Homo sapiens: one gene and its partners. The gene in region 1 interacts genetically with each later gene. Each region holds a gene or a part of one and is shown on either strand. Other genes may lie near its edges.

Region 1 (5,136 bases):
CACAGCTGCAGAGAAACAGAGGCACAGGTGAGCACCGGCAAGGCCCCCGCGGGGCCACTGAGGACACGGGGCGGAGGCCACAGAGGACACAGCCAGGAGACTGCTGGGCTGGAAGGAGCTCTGAAGGCCGGGGCATGATGAGCACCGTCCCTGCCCGGAACCCAGCTGGGAAGCACACATCACATGACATCAGAGGCCAGAGATCTCGGCGTGGCTGCCTGGGGACGAACAGGGTAGGGCTCAGGGGGCTTTCTGTAAAGCGGGATGGGTGGGTGGGTGGGTGGGTGGCACAGGTGGGAGAGTGTACTGCCAGGAGAGCATGACTGCCAATCCCGGGTAGAAGCCCTGAGGATCCTGAAGCCAGGGGAGCAGTCGCACCCCCAGACACAGAGGGGCCACACAACAGTCCCCGTATCCAGGCCCAGGGCCGCTCTGGGAAAGAGGGAGGGAGGCAGATGACAGCAGGCAGGCCCGAGGCAGGGACACAGGAGCCACCGAGCTGCCCCTGCCCATGGCGACTGGTTGATGCTGAGAGCGGGGAGAGTGGGCCGGAGGGCAGGAGGCCCCGGAGAGCCGGGCACTGATGCAGGAGCCCCCAGGGCCTGACCCAGGCTCGGGTTCTTCTCCAGCAGCCACTGGTGGAGCGGGGCAGGCTGGACGCCACTCGAGGCTGTGATGATGCCAGGCTGGGTCGGACCCATCCCCTTCGGTGCAGAGCGGAGCTGAGGAGGGAATGGCGGGGCTTGAGGGACCAGCGGAGCCAACAGCCACCTAAGCAAGGCTGGGCACGGGGCAGGCAGCAAACTTCTACCCCAGGGGAAAAGACAGAAGCCTCTGGTCCTGAGAAGGAACACGCAGTCCCTGCTCCCGGGATGGTGGGACCCCAGCCCACAGCCCCTCGCTGAGTCTGCACCACCTTAAATGCTCCCGAGCCCAGAGCTGAGGGCCCCAGAGCCTGTTGCCACCCACAGAGAAACGCCGTGTCTGGACAGGGGCTCATGGCTGAGGGGACTCTGTGCAGGTCGCTCTCTGGAGCGAGGGGGCCAGCCAGCCCCGGCTGGCATGGAGCCCAGTCTCAGCGCAGGCCCCGACGGGAGGCAGGACGGTCCCCAGCAAGGAGCCTCGGGACAGCCTGGGGAGGAGGGAGGAGGGAGGAGCCCCACCTGCAGAACTGAAGGGTGGTCAGGGGCAGCCTGGGGAGGAGGGAGGAGCCCCCACCTGCAGAACTGAAGGGTGGTCGGGGGCAGCCTGGGGAGGAGGGAGGAGCCCCACCTGCAGAACTGAAGGGTGGTCTGGGGCAGCCTGGGGAGGAGGGAGGAGGGAGGAGCCCCACCTGCAGAACTGAAGGGTGGTCAGGGACAGCCTGGGGAGGAGCCCCACCTGCAGAACTGAAGGGTGGTCGGGGGCAGCCTGGGGAGGAGGGAGGAGGGAGGAGCCCCACCTGCAGAACTGAAGGGTGGTGGGGGCAGCCTGGGGAGGAGGGAGGAGCCCCCACCTGCAGAACTGAAGGGTGGTCGGGGGCAGCCTGGGGAGGAGGGAGGAGCCCCACCTGCAGAACTGAAGGGTGGTCGGGGGCAGCCTGGGGAGAAGGGAGGAGGGAGGAGCCCCACCTGCAGAACTGAAGGGTGGTCGGGGGCAGCCTGGGGAGAAGGGAGGAGGGAGGAGCCCCACCTGCAGAACTGAAGGGTGGTCGGGGGCAGCCTGGGGAGGAGGGAGGAAGGAGGAGCCCCACCTGCAGAACTGAAGGGTGGTCGGGGGCAGCCTGGGGAGGAGGGAGGAAGGAGGAGCCCCACCTGCAGAACTGAAGGGTGGTGGGGGCAGCCTGGGGAGGAGGGAGGAGCCCCACCTGCAGAACTGAAGGGTGGCAGCTGTGGTGTTAACTGGACGCTCGGGTGGTGCAACCCCAGGGACGCGGCTGTCACCTCGTCGCCCTCAAGCCAGGTACCCGCCCAGGAGGCCAAGAACCCTGCACCGGGAGCCACCGCAGCCACCTGCCTGTCTGCACAGATCCTGCCGGGTCCTCCCTGACCCAGGCCCCAGCCACCCCTGGCCCCATTCTAGGGCTCCAGACAGACAGAAGCCCCACCCTCACTGAAGAAGGGGGACCACAGTTTGCTGCTGTGCCCCAGATGTGCAGGGGAAGAGGTTTCCTGCCAACCGGCAGGACGTAGGGGCCGCGGGTGAAGAGGGGCCGTGGGTGCACAGCCATCGCCGAAAATGTTAGGACAGGAACTCCCAGCTGAGTAAGCCACATCAGAAACGAAGGCACCGGCGTCACAAGCACTGCCCCCCTGGATGTGGCCCCTGCGTTCCGGTGCCAGAAACACCCTGTGGGGATCACAGGCCTTGGGTTCCGCACGGCAACAGCCGCTCGAATGTTCTGGTTTCCCAGTGCACACACAAGTTACGTTCACAGTATACCGTGGTCTAGGAAGTGTGCAGTAGCGTTGTGTCTAATCAAAGGACACACTTTAATTAAGCGGGGCGTGGTGTGCAAGCCTGTGGTCCCAGCTACTCGGGAGACTGAGGCGGGAGGATCGTTTGAGCCCAGGAGGCGGAGGCTGCAGTGAGCTATGATCGCACCACTGCACTCCAGCCTGGGGGATACAGCAAGACCCCATCTTAAATAAATAATAAAGAAATAAAAATACTTTACTGCTAAGCAATGGTAATGATCATGGGAACCGGGAGTGGCCCTAATCTCCCCGGAGAAGGGTCTTGCCTCAATGTGGACGGCGGCTGACTCGTTGGGGCGGTGGCTGCTGGAGGCTGGGGCAACTTCTTAAACTATGACCACAAAAAAGTTGGCCACAGCGATGGACTCTTCCTTTCATGAAAGATTTCTCTGTGGGGCGTGATGCTGTCTGATAGCATTGATTACCCACAGCAGAACGTCTTTCAGAACTGCAGTCGGTCCTCTCAACCCGGCCGCGGCTTCATCAACCGAGGTTCCGGGCTGTTCCAAGTTCTTTGTCCTCATTACCCCCAGGTTCACAGAATCTTCACTGGGACTAGAGCGCAACTGAAGCAACTCCCCTGCTCACCCTTCAGAGGCAACTCCTCACGTGTTAAAGTTTTCTCGCGAGACAGCGACAATGCAGTCACATCTCCAAGTCCTTCTCATTCTAGTTCTCTTGCTGCTTCTAAAACCTCTACAGTCCCTCCTCCACTGAAGTCCTGAACCCTCACAGTGATCTTTCAGGCCTGGGACCAACTTCTTCCAAACTTCCGCTCATCCTGACATGTTACCTCCTCCCATGGATCACGCGTGTCCTTCACAGCCTCTAGAACGGCAAAGCCTTTCCGGGGGTTTCAATTTACCCAATTTCCCCAGCTCCATCAGAGGAATTGCTCTCCACGGCACCTACAGGCACCTAGAGCCTTACAAATGTATTTCTCAATAATGAGAGTCATGGGCGGCTGCGGTGGCTCCTGCCTGTAACCCCGACACTTTGGGAGGCTGACGCAGGCAGACTGCTTGAGGCCGGGAGTTCAAGACCAGCCTGGGCAACACAGGGAGACCCTATCTTTACAAAAATAAAAACAAAATTAGCCAGTCATGGCGGTGCGCACCTGTGGTCCTAGCTACTTAGGAGACTGAGGTGAGAGGATCGCTTGAGCCTGGGAGGTGGAGGCTAAAGTGAGCTGTGATTCTGCTTCTCCACTGCAGCCTGGGAGACACAGTGAGACCGTGCCTCAAAAACACTAAGACTTGGCCAGGCACAGTGGCTCAGGCCTGTAGTCCCAGCACTTTGGGAGGCTGAGGCGGGCAGACTGCTTTGAGCTCAGGAGTTCAAGACCAGCCTGAGGAACATGGTGAAACCCCCTATGAAAAAATATAAAAATTAGCTGGGCATGGTGGCACGCACCTGTAGCCCCAGCTACTCAGGAGGCTGAGGAAAGACAATTGCTTCAACCCGGGAGGTGGAGGATGCAGTGAGCCAAGATCGTGCTACTGCACTCCAGCCTGGGTGACAGTGGGACACCTTGTCATGCATAAATAAATGAATGAATGACATGTCAAGGAGTCATCTTGATTTCCGAGTCATTCATTCATTCATTGATCCACAGGCTACAGGCTGGATGTTGTGCTAGCAGGGATGGAAACAATGATCTTTTTTTTTTTTTTGGAAACGGAGTCTCGCTCTGTCGCCCAGGCTGGAGTGCAGTGGCACAATCTCGGCTCACTGCAACCTCCGCCTCCTGGGTTCATGCCATTCTCCTGCCTCAGCCTCCTGAGTAGCTGGGACTAAAGGCGCCCGCCACCACGGCCGGTTAATTTTTTGTATTTTTAGTAGAGACGCGGTTTCACTGTGGTCTCGATCTCCTGACCTCGTGATCTGCCCGCCTTGGCCTCCCGAAGTGCTGGGATCACAGGTGTGAGCCACCGCGCCCGGCCGGAAACTGATCGTGTACGTCTCCACTAGGGATCTTGGGTGACCAGGTGCGTTGTCAGTGAGCAGTCATATTTTGAAAGAAATCTTTTTGGCCAGGCGCGGTGGCTCACACCTGTAATCCCAGCAGTTTGGGAGGCCGAGGCAGGCGGATCATGAAGTCAGGAGATCGAGACCATCCTGGCTAATACGCTGAAACCCCGTTTCTACTAAAATTACAAAAACATTAGCTGGGCATGGTCGTGGGCTCCTGTAGTCCCAGCTACTCGGGAAGCTGAGGCAGGAGAATGGGGTGAACCCGGGAGGGGGAGCTTGCAGTGAACCGAGATGGCACCACTGCACTCCAGCCTGGGTGACGAGCGAGAATCAGTCTCAAAAAAAAAAACAAAAAAACAAAAACTTTTTTCTGAACAATAGGTCTCAAAAGTGGGCTTCAAATATTCCATAAGCCAGGTGTTAAACAGATGTGCTGTCACCCAGGCTCTGTTGTTCTATTTATAGAGCACAGAGTAGATTTAGCATAATTCTCGTGGGCCCTAGGATTTGTGGAATGGTAAAAAGCCCTGGCATCACCTTCAAGTCACCAGCTGCGTTAGCCCCTAACAAGAGGGTGAAGAGGGTGGGCCTCTCCTTGGAAGCCAGGGAACCGCTTCTTCCACACGAGGAAAGTCCTGGGTGGCATCTTCTTCCAGAAGGCTGTTTCTTCTACCCTGAAAAGCCACCTCCAGCAGTGACCTTGGCT
Region 2 (4,775 bases), on another chromosome or scaffold:
TGGTCTCAAACTCCTGAGCTCAGGCAAACCGCCCGCCTCAGCCTCCCAAAGTGCTAGGATTACAGGCATGAGCCACGGCGCCTGGCCTGCCATTTTAATGTTTTACCCGATTAATAGTGTTTAAATATAGTAAGGAGGTACTTTAAATACGATGTTACTGTTTGCCATTGTCTTGTGGCTTTTGAAAATCCCCAAATTTATAAAACTACCTATAAAGTGTACCATTGTCATATTTGAATTGCCCATTTCCAGTCCCCATGTGCATTACTGTATGATGAACGTGTACGGACCCACAAAGCTCCATTGAGATACAGGTGCCAAATGGTCTACTGGGCTATTCAGCTAGAAGAACTGCAAAAATCACAAACTGGTCTTGTGGACTTAAAGATCACTCTTGATGAATCATTACATCTTGCTGAATCATTACTTCATGTGTGAAACGTGCAGGTTCCAAGGGTCTCTGTTGTCTTCACAGGGTGCAGTGAACTTGCACATGGAAGAAGAGGTTGAAGACTTCTTATTGAAGAAGCCCATTGTACCTACTGATGGCAAGCGTGTCATTGTTGTGTTTCACTGCGAGTTTTCTTCTGAGAGAGGTCCCCGCATGTGAGTGCTGCACGGAACTGGGTTCTGGGGCACAGGCTCCATGATGCTTTTGTGGGACATGGTGGTTTGTGGCTTGCACTTGGAGCATATTTTAGCATATCAAGCAACCTCTGGCACATAACAAGCCATTTTCATATGTAATTTTATCCTGAGGTGAACTTTGGCTCTTCCAGTCTCCCCGACTGTCCTTAGTCTGATCTGTGGGGCTACTGTTCTCATGTGACCTCCTTCAAGTACAAAGTGACCGTTCCTTATGCAAATGCCAGAAAAGTGTGAAGTTCTCATTCTGTAAAACCTCATATGATATGATGCTTTGAAACACTTGATATTATTACCAATTTCAGGGTGAAAAGAAAAAAGGGGGCCAAAGAGCTGCCCATCAGTCATCTGTGTCCATTCTAAAAGGATTGCAAGCCTGCTGTTTGTCAGGCACTGACAATAAAAATGTAACTACAGTAAAACACAGTACAGTAAAAATACCACAGCGAGCAGGACCAACAAGGACCCTACTGCAGCAGAGATCCAAGTGGGGATCCGTATAAATGCTAGGAGGACAGGCAGAGAGGTAGGACAGAGAGTGCAGCTTAACTAGGATGGTCCAAGGGAGACTTCTGCAGGACCACGTTCTTATGCCACCTTTTTATTTTGAACCAATTTATTTTAAAAAACATTTTTAAATTAAAAAATTTCAATTTTTTTTTTTTGACGGAGTTTTGCTCTTGTTGCCCAGGCTGGAGTGCAGTGGCACAATCTCTTCTCACTGCAACCTCTGCCTCCCAGGTTCAAGCAGTTCTCCTGCCTCAGCCTCCCAAGTAGCTGGGATTACAGGCATGCGCCATCACGCCCGGCTAATTTTGTATTTTTAGTAGAGGCAGGGTTTCTACATGTTGGTCAGGCTGGTCTTGAACTCCCGACCTTAGGTGATCCGCCTGCCTCAGCCTCCCAAAGTAGTGGGATTACAGGCGTGAGCCACTGCACCTGGCTTTTTCTTTCTTTCTTTCTTTCTTTTTTTTTTTTTTTTTTGAGGCGGAGGCACACTGTTTTCACCCAGACTGGAATGCAGTGGCATGATCTCGGCTCACTGCAACCTCCACCTCCTGGGTTCAAGCGATTCTCCTGCCTCAGCCTCCTGAGTAGCTGGGATAACAGGCGTGCACCACCACACCCGGCTAATTTTTGTATTTGTAGTAGAGATGGGGGTTTCACCATGTTGGCCGGGCTGGTCTTGAACTCCTGACCTCAGGTGATCCACCCGCCTTGACCTCCCAAAGTGCTGGGATTACAGGTGTGAGCCACCACGCCCAGCAGAAATTTCAAATTTTGAGATGGGGTCTTAATATATTGGCCAGGTTGGTCTCAAACTCCTGGCCTCAAGCAATCCTCTCTCCTTGGCCTCCAAAGTGCTAGGATTGCAGGCATGAGCCACTGTGCCCACCCCTTTGAACCTTTTTTTTTTTTTGAGACGGAGTCTCGCTCTGTCACCCAGGCTGGAGTGCAGTGGCACAATCTCGACTTACTGCAAGCTCCGCCTCCTGGGTTCATGCCATTCTCCTGCCTCAGCCTCCCGAGTAGCTGGGACTACAGGTGCCCACCATCACGCCTGGCTAATTTTTTTGTATTTTTAGTAGAGACAGGGTTTCACCATTTTAGCCAGGATGGTCTCCATCTCCTGACCTTGCGATCTGCCCGTCTCGGCCTCCCAAAGTGCTTGGATTACAGGCGTGAGCCACTGCGCCTGACCTGAACCATTTTAAAGCTCAAGAAGAGGTGAGGTTATGGCTGGGCACAGTGGCACCTGTAATCCCAACACTTTGGGAGGCCGAGGCAGGAGGATCACTTGCTCGGGAGTTTCAGACCAGACCAACCTGGGTAACACAGTGGGACCACACCTCTACAAAAAATAGGAGGTGGGAGGATCGTTTGAGCCCAGCAGGTCGAGGCTGTGGTGAGCCATGATCATGCCACTGTACTCCAGCCTAGGTGACAGAGTGAGATTCTGTCTCTCTCTCACACACACACACACACACACACACACACACAAAGGTTATACTTGCACACACTTCACCTGATTTTATTAATTTTTAACATTTTGTCACATTTGTATGTACATGCTCTACACACAGGCAACTACAGTACAACTTGACACTTTTGACTGTCATCTCATAAGTCCTTCAAACATCTGTCTCCAAAGGATGCTCATTCATGAATGGAATTATTCACTCAGCAGTTTTTTTGTTTGTTTGTTTGAGATGTAGTCTTGCTCTGCCACCCAGACTGGAGTGCAGTGGTGCGATCTCGGATCACTGCAACCTCCACCTCCCGGGTTCAAGCAATTCTCCTGCCTCAGGCTCCCAAGTAGCTGGGACTACGGGTGCATGCCACCATGCCAAGCTAATGTTTGTATTTTTAGTAGAGACGGGGTTTTGCTACATTGGCCAGGCTGGTCTCGAACTCCTGACCTCAAGTGATCTACCCGCCTCAGCCTCCCAAAGTGCTGGGATTATAGGCCTGAAACAAACTAATCTGGACACACATACACACACATGTAAATTGTTTTTAAACCCACAAAAGATGCTGCTCTCTTTTTTTTTTATTTTTGAGTCAGGGTCAGTCTCTGTTGTCCAGGCTGGAGTACAGTGGCAGGAGCACAGCTCACTGTAGCCTCTGCCTCCCAGGCTCAAGTGATTCTCCCACCTCAGCCTCCCAGGAAGCTAGGACCACAAACATGCATCACCATGCCTGGCTAATTTTTGTATTTTTTATAGAGACAGGGTCTCACTGTGTTGCCCAGGCTGGTCTCAAACTCCTGGGCTCAGGCAATCCTGGCCTCCCAAAGTGCTTGGATTACAGGTGTGAGCCGCCATGCCCAGCCCAAAAGATGCTATTCTCTTAATCTCTCATTTCCCCATCTTCCTCTTTAACACCTCTAATATAAAGGACATTATTATACCATATTGAAACTTCACCTAGATATACAGAAAACGCCCCATCTCTGTATTCTGTATTTGCAAGCTGCATGTTTATATCACCATCTACAGATACCCCTTACACTTCGTTCCCCACTTGAGTTTCGCCATCACTGGCTTTCTGTTGTTCCACTGGGGAAAGATTTGGGATTCACAGGTGAACTCTTTTTTTTTTTTTTTTTTTTTTTTGAGTTGGAATCTCGCCCTTTCGCCCAGGCTGGAATGCAGTGGCACAATCTCGGCTCACTGCAGCCTCCTCCTCCCGGGTTCAAGCATTTCTCTGCCTCAGCCTCCCAAGTAGCTGGGATTACAGGCACCTGCCACCACGCCCAGCTAATTTTTTGTAGTTTTAGTAGACACAGGGTTTCACTATCTTGGCCAGGCTGGTCTCGAACTCCTGACCTCGTGATCCACCGCCTCAGCCTCCCAAAGTGCTGGAATTACAGGTGTGAGCCACCGCGCCCAGCCAAACTCCTTTTAACCACAGGCAAATGGTTTAAGCTACGTGCTGCAGAGGAAGCTGCTGCCCATCCCTCATGAGCAGCTAACAAAGGCCCCAAACCACTGAGCTTCAAGAGAAAATCAGCAGATACTCTTGGCTCTTGTGTACCAGATACCTTTCTAGATACTGAGGGAGAAGAGCAGTGAACAAAACAGACCAAAAAATCTCTGCCTTCATGGAACTTACATTTCGGAGTGGACAGGAGATCGAGACCAGCCTGGCCAACATGGTGAAATCCCGTCTCTACTAAAAATACAAAAATTAGCCAGGCGTGGTGGCGGACACCTGTAATCCCAGCTACTTTGGAGGCTGAGGCAGGAGCATCCCTTGAACCCAGGAGGCAGAGGTTGCAGTGAGCCGAGATCGCGCCAGTGCACTCCAGCCTGGGCGACAGAGTGAGACTCCATCTCAAAAAAAAAAAAAAAAAGGTGACTGGGTGCGGTGGCTAACTCCTGTAATCCCAACACTTTGGGAGGCCAAGGCAGGTGGATCACAAGGTCAAGAGGTCGAGACCATCCTGGCCAACATGGTGAAGCCCCATCTCTACTAAACATACAAAAATCAGCTGGGCGGTGGCACGCGCCTGTAGTCCCAGCTATTTGGGAGGCTGAGGCAGGAGAATTGCTTGAACCCGGGAGACGGAGATTGCAGTGAGCCTGAGGTCACGCCCTTGCACTCCAGCCTGGTGACAGAGTGAGATT
Region 3 (4,826 bases), on another chromosome or scaffold:
CCGGGGCAGGGCCGCACAGGTCCATCCACCTCCCCTGGGACCCCAGCCCTGCAGCAGCCCCAGGGGAGCGGCCGGGGATCGGGGCGGGGTGCCCAGGACGCGCCCTGATTGGCCCAGTGTTAGCCAATCAAAGCTCTCGCATCCCCATGGTGCTGATTGGTCCGCCTCCCAGGCCTGACCCAATCGGAGCATTCCTAGGAGGAGCGGCCCCAGAGCCCCTGACTCGGGGGTCCCAGAGCCCTCTGCACACCACAGCCCCGGTGTCCCCGTGTGTCCCTGGGTTCTCCCAGCCCTGGTGTCCCCTGAGTCTCTTCTTCACCGTCAGCCCTGGTGTCTCCCGTGTCCCTGCCACACCCTCATCCCTGGTGTCCCCCGTCACCCCATCCCCTCACCTCCTGGGCTCCTGAAGGTCCCATCTTGTGGGCCTCATTCATGGAACCAGGACGGGGCAGGTGGAGGCCTCTGGGGAGTTTGTCCAGAGAATGGAGGAGAAGCAGGGTCATGAGCAGGAGCGGTCTGGGCCACCCCTGCCTGTCCCCCGGGGGGTGCAGCCCGGAAGGAGTCCAGATGGATATGGCCCCGCAGTGCAGAGTCAGCCCCAAACCAGGCTGGTCCCAGGCAGGGTGGGGGCAGGAGGAGCCCCGGAGTGGCCCTGTGTTGGGGGTCGGGGGGCAGGCAGGGGGTCCTGGGGCTCAGAAGCGGAGGAGGTGGGCTGGAGGCCCCAGTGACCAACAGGCCCAGGGGAGTCGGGAGGTGGGGTGGACGGACCTGCAGGGACAGTGTCAGCGCTGAATGGGATGGAGAGCACAGGGAGCTGGGGCCGGGGATGAGACCATGGGGAGCTGGGGCTGGGGCTGGGACTAGTCCATGGGGAGCTGGGGCTGAAGTTGGGGGTGAGTCCATGGGGAGCTGGGCTGGGCCTCCTGGGGTTGCACCTGCACTCCTCTCTGCTCTTCCCTCTGCGTATGAAGCTCAGATCCCATGATAAGGAGGCACCTGCAGACCAGGGGACCTGCACGGACAGCCCCAGAGGTGGACATTGAGGACTCGTAGGAGGACTTGGGTCTCATACGGCGGGTGGGGAGCAGGGCCCCTTCCTGGCTGAGGACACTTGGTGCTGTCCCCTCTCAAGGCTGTTTCCCCATCTGACAAAGGGGTCTCACGTGAGCCCCCAACCAAGTGAGTCGAGGAGGGCTGGCCCCACCCCCGTGGATTCGGAGTCCGTAGGAGGGGTGTCACCCGTCATGTCCCCACCCCGTGGGCACCTTCCCGTCTCTTGGAGCGTGGCCCATGGACATGAGTTCCTCACCCGTGTCCCTCTTGGGGAAACAGGTTTCAGGAGCGACGGGTCTTGTAGCCTGGGGCAGCCAGGCCACCTGGGTGCAGCAATGCCTGAAGGCCTCCTGGCACCGAGACAGGGGCAGGAGCAGATCCCACCAGCGGGAAGGTGGTGGGTTCCAGTGCTGGGATCCACCAGCTGACAGGTGGAGCTGCCAGTCTCCAGTGCTCAGCCCTCAGCGGGGCCTGCCTGGCAGCCCCACACACAGAGGGCATCGGGGTGGCGGGGGCACGTGTTACACGGGGGCCCTGGGTCTGAGTCATCCACTTCCTCCGAGTCTGGATGGGAGGACCCAGCGCCCCTCCTCCGCCCCCTCCTGATCTGGAAGGATAAATGGGGAGGGGAGAGCCCACTGGGTAGAAGGAACAGGGAGCGGCCAGGGTAAGTCCCCACTCTCAGAGACCCTGACATCAGCGTCACCTGGAGCAGAGTGGCCCAGCCTCAGACTCAGAGCACCAAGACCCAGGCCCGCAGGCCTGGACCCACCCCGGTCCCCCCGTCCCAGCTCCATTCTTCACCCCACAATCTGTAGCCCCCAGCCCTGCCCTGTGAGGCCCGGCCAGGCCCACGATGCTCCTCCTTGCTCCCCAGATGCTGAATCTGCTGCTGCTGGCGCTGCCCGTCCTGGCGAGCCGCGCCTACGCGGCCCCTGGTGAGTCCCAGCCGGGGTCCACCCTGCCCCTCACCACATTCCACAGGTCAGGGCCTGGGTGGGTTCTGGGGAGGTCGGGCTGGCCCCCACACAGGGAAGGGCTGGGCCCAGGCCTGGGGCTGCTTCCTGGTCCTGACCTGGCACCTGCCCCAGCCCCAGGCCAGGCCCTGCAGCGAGTGGGCATCGTCGGGGGTCAGGAGGCCCCCAGGAGCAAGTGGCCCTGGCAGGTGAGCCTGAGAGTCCACGGCCCATACTGGATGCACTTCTGCGGGGGCTCCCTCATCCACCCCCAGTGGGTGCTGACCGCAGCGCACTGCGTGGGACCGTGAGTCTCCCGGGGCCTGGAGGGGTGGGGAAGGGCTGGATGTGAGCCCTGGCTCCCGGGTGCTCCTGGGGGCTGCCCAGGGCCCTGAGTGGGATCCTCCGCTGCCCAGGGACGTCAAGGATCTGGCCGCCCTCAGGGTGCAACTGCGGGAGCAGCACCTCTACTACCAGGACCAGCTGCTGCCGGTCAGCAGGATCATCGTGCACCCACAGTTCTACACCGCCCAGATCGGAGCGGACATCGCCCTGCTGGAGCTGGAGGAGCCGGTGAACGTCTCCAGCCACGTCCACACGGTCACCCTGCCCCCTGCCTCAGAGACCTTCCCCCCGGGGATGCCGTGCTGGGTCACTGGCTGGGGCGATGTGGACAATGATGGTGGGTCTGGGGACAGTGGAGGTGGGGCCAGGGTCTTAGCCACAGCCCAGCCCCTGGGCTCCCTCTGGGCTCCAGGTGGGGGTTGCCCGGCCCCCTCCTGAGGCTGCACCCTCTTCCCCACCTGCAGAGCGCCTCCCACCGCCATTTCCTCTGAAGCAGGTGAAGGTCCCCATAATGGAAAACCACATTTGTGACGCAAAATACCACCTTGGCGCCTACACGGGAGACGACGTCCGCATCGTCCGTGACGACATGCTGTGTGCCGGGAACACCCGGAGGGACTCATGCCAGGTGGGCCCCGCCTGTCCCCCGCCCCCCGCCCCCCAACCCCCACTCCCAGGCCTGTTCGGCGAGCGCTGACCTCTGACCTTCCCAGGGCGACTCCGGAGGGCCCCTGGTGTGCAAGGTGAATGGCACCTGGCTGCAGGCGGGCGTGGTCAGCTGGGGCGAGGGCTGTGCCCAGCCCAACCGGCCTGGCATCTACACCCGTGTCACCTACTACTTGGACTGGATCCACCACTATGTCCCCAAAAAGCCGTGAGTCAGGCCTGGGTTGGCCACCTGGGTCACTGGAGGACCAACCCCTGCTGTCCAAAACACCACTGCTTCCTACCCAGGTGGCGACTGCCCCCCACACCTTCCCTGCCCCGTCCTGAGTGCCCCTTCCTGTCCTAAGCCCCCTGCTCTCTTCTGAGCCCCTTCCCCTGTCCTGAGGACCCTTCCCTATCCTGAGCCCCCTTCCCTGTCCTAAGCCTGACGCCTGCACCGGGCCCTCCAGCCCTCCCCTGCCCAGATAGCTGGTGGTGGGCGCTAATCCTCCTGAGTGCTGGACCTCATTAAAGTGCATGGAAATCACTGGTGTGCATCGCTGTGTTTCTGGTTGTGGATGTCACTGGGAGAGAAGGGGTCCAGGTGTGCTGAGGACACCTGCCACAGTGTGAGGTCCTAGCCCTCAAGGCACAGCCAGTCACCGTGGGACGGGGCCTCCTGGGCAGCCCTGGTCCCCGAGGCTGGCTTCTCCCCACACGATGCATCCAGCATTCGGGTCACACAGAGCCACTCGGGCAACTCAGTTGATTATAAAGGACAGCCAGGTCCCTGCAACCGGGTCAAGACAGAGAATGGTCGCCGGGAGCCCCAGGGCTGCCCATCATGAGCCCCTACCCCACGCTTCCCACGAGCTCTTCTCCCGGCCCCTCTGTCCACTGCTTGTGCTTTGCCTAGTTGTTTGCTTTGAGACGGGATCTCGCTGTGTCATCCAGGCTGAAGTGCAGTGGTGTGATCAGGGCTCACTGCAGCCTTAACTCCTGGGCTCAAGCGATCCTCCCATCTTGGCCTCCCATATAGCTGGGCCACAGGCGTGAGCCACCACGCCCAGTTAATTTTTGTATTTTCAGTAGAGATGGGGTTTCGCCATGTTGGCCAGTCTGGTCTCGAACTCCTGACCTCAAGTGATCCGCCCGCCTCGGCCTCCCAAAGTGCTGGGATGACAGGCGTGAGCCACCGCACCCGGCCTGAGTTTGACATTTTCAAATTCATTTTGAGGTCTTTCTCTACATCAATAGGTGAGCCCTCTGCGTCTGGCGAGTGTTGCATTTTATCCCGGGCTCTTGTTTGCATTTTTTATTTGAACATGATTACACCCAGGAATGAAATGCGGGGCTGTTCTGGTTGAAAACAACTCTCTAAAGAAACATTCACTCTTTCCTTCCAACTGTCAGATGCAGAGATGTGCATTTAGTCTCTCCAATCTCTGCAAATGACCTCTGTCCTCACAAGGGGTGGACTCGACTCCCAGCGCCCTCTCCAGCCCCACGTGACCTCTGCCTCTGCAGCCCCTGAAGGCCCATCCCTCGGCTCCTGTTCTGCAGGCCCAGCGTCTTGTCTATGAAGATGGACCTGGAACTCGGGCCCTCCTTCCTCCCTCTGGCCCATCCCACCTTCTAGGGATCACAGAGACAGCACGGGGTGACCCCCAGGGAACACTGAGCCCCTAGAAGCACTTCCACACGCCCACTGGAGGTTTTGCGGGGTGGGAGTCGGAGGGATGAGACCCCGAAGGGAAGCAAGACGGCCCCTCAGGACAGGGCTGCCGGTGTAAGGAAAGGTGGACAGCAGGGGCCGGTCACTGGGTG

What was found.
Region 2: changes in CSNK1G2 (region 1) and CDC25A together harm fitness more than expected from each alone (negative genetic interaction), as found in Homo sapiens cells (one large-scale study listed by BioGRID).
Region 3: changes in CSNK1G2 (region 1) and TPSAB1 together harm fitness more than expected from each alone (negative genetic interaction), as found in Homo sapiens cells (one large-scale study listed by BioGRID).

What each region holds. Positions count from the first base shown.
Region 1 is NC_000019.10:1,964,377-1,969,512, reverse strand, and holds part of CSNK1G2 (casein kinase I), read right to left. Parts: intron 723-5,136; exon of another isoform or gene 608-722; intron 6-607; 5' UTR 1-5. UniProt on the Homo sapiens protein: Serine/threonine-protein kinase. Casein kinases are operationally defined by their preferential utilization of acidic proteins such as caseins as substrates. It can phosphorylate a large number of proteins. Participates in Wnt signaling.
Region 2 is NC_000003.12:48,160,138-48,164,912, reverse strand, and holds part of CDC25A (M-phase inducer phosphatase 1), read left to right. Parts: intron 1-475; coding exon 476-606; intron 607-4,775. UniProt on the Homo sapiens protein: Tyrosine protein phosphatase which functions as a dosage-dependent inducer of mitotic progression. Directly dephosphorylates CDK1 and stimulates its kinase activity. Also dephosphorylates CDK2 in complex with cyclin-E, in vitro.
Region 3 is NC_000016.10:1,239,009-1,243,834, forward strand, and holds TPSAB1 (tryptase alpha/beta-1 precursor), read left to right. Parts: upstream 1-1,696; 5' UTR 1,697-1,720; intron 1,721-1,930; coding exon 1,931-1,991; intron 1,992-2,144; coding exon 2,145-2,316; intron 2,317-2,425; coding exon 2,426-2,691; intron 2,692-2,818; coding exon 2,819-2,982; intron 2,983-3,067; coding exon 3,068-3,232; 3' UTR 3,233-3,546; downstream 3,547-4,826. UniProt on the Homo sapiens protein: Tryptase is the major neutral protease present in mast cells and is secreted upon the coupled activation-degranulation response of this cell type. May play a role in innate immunity.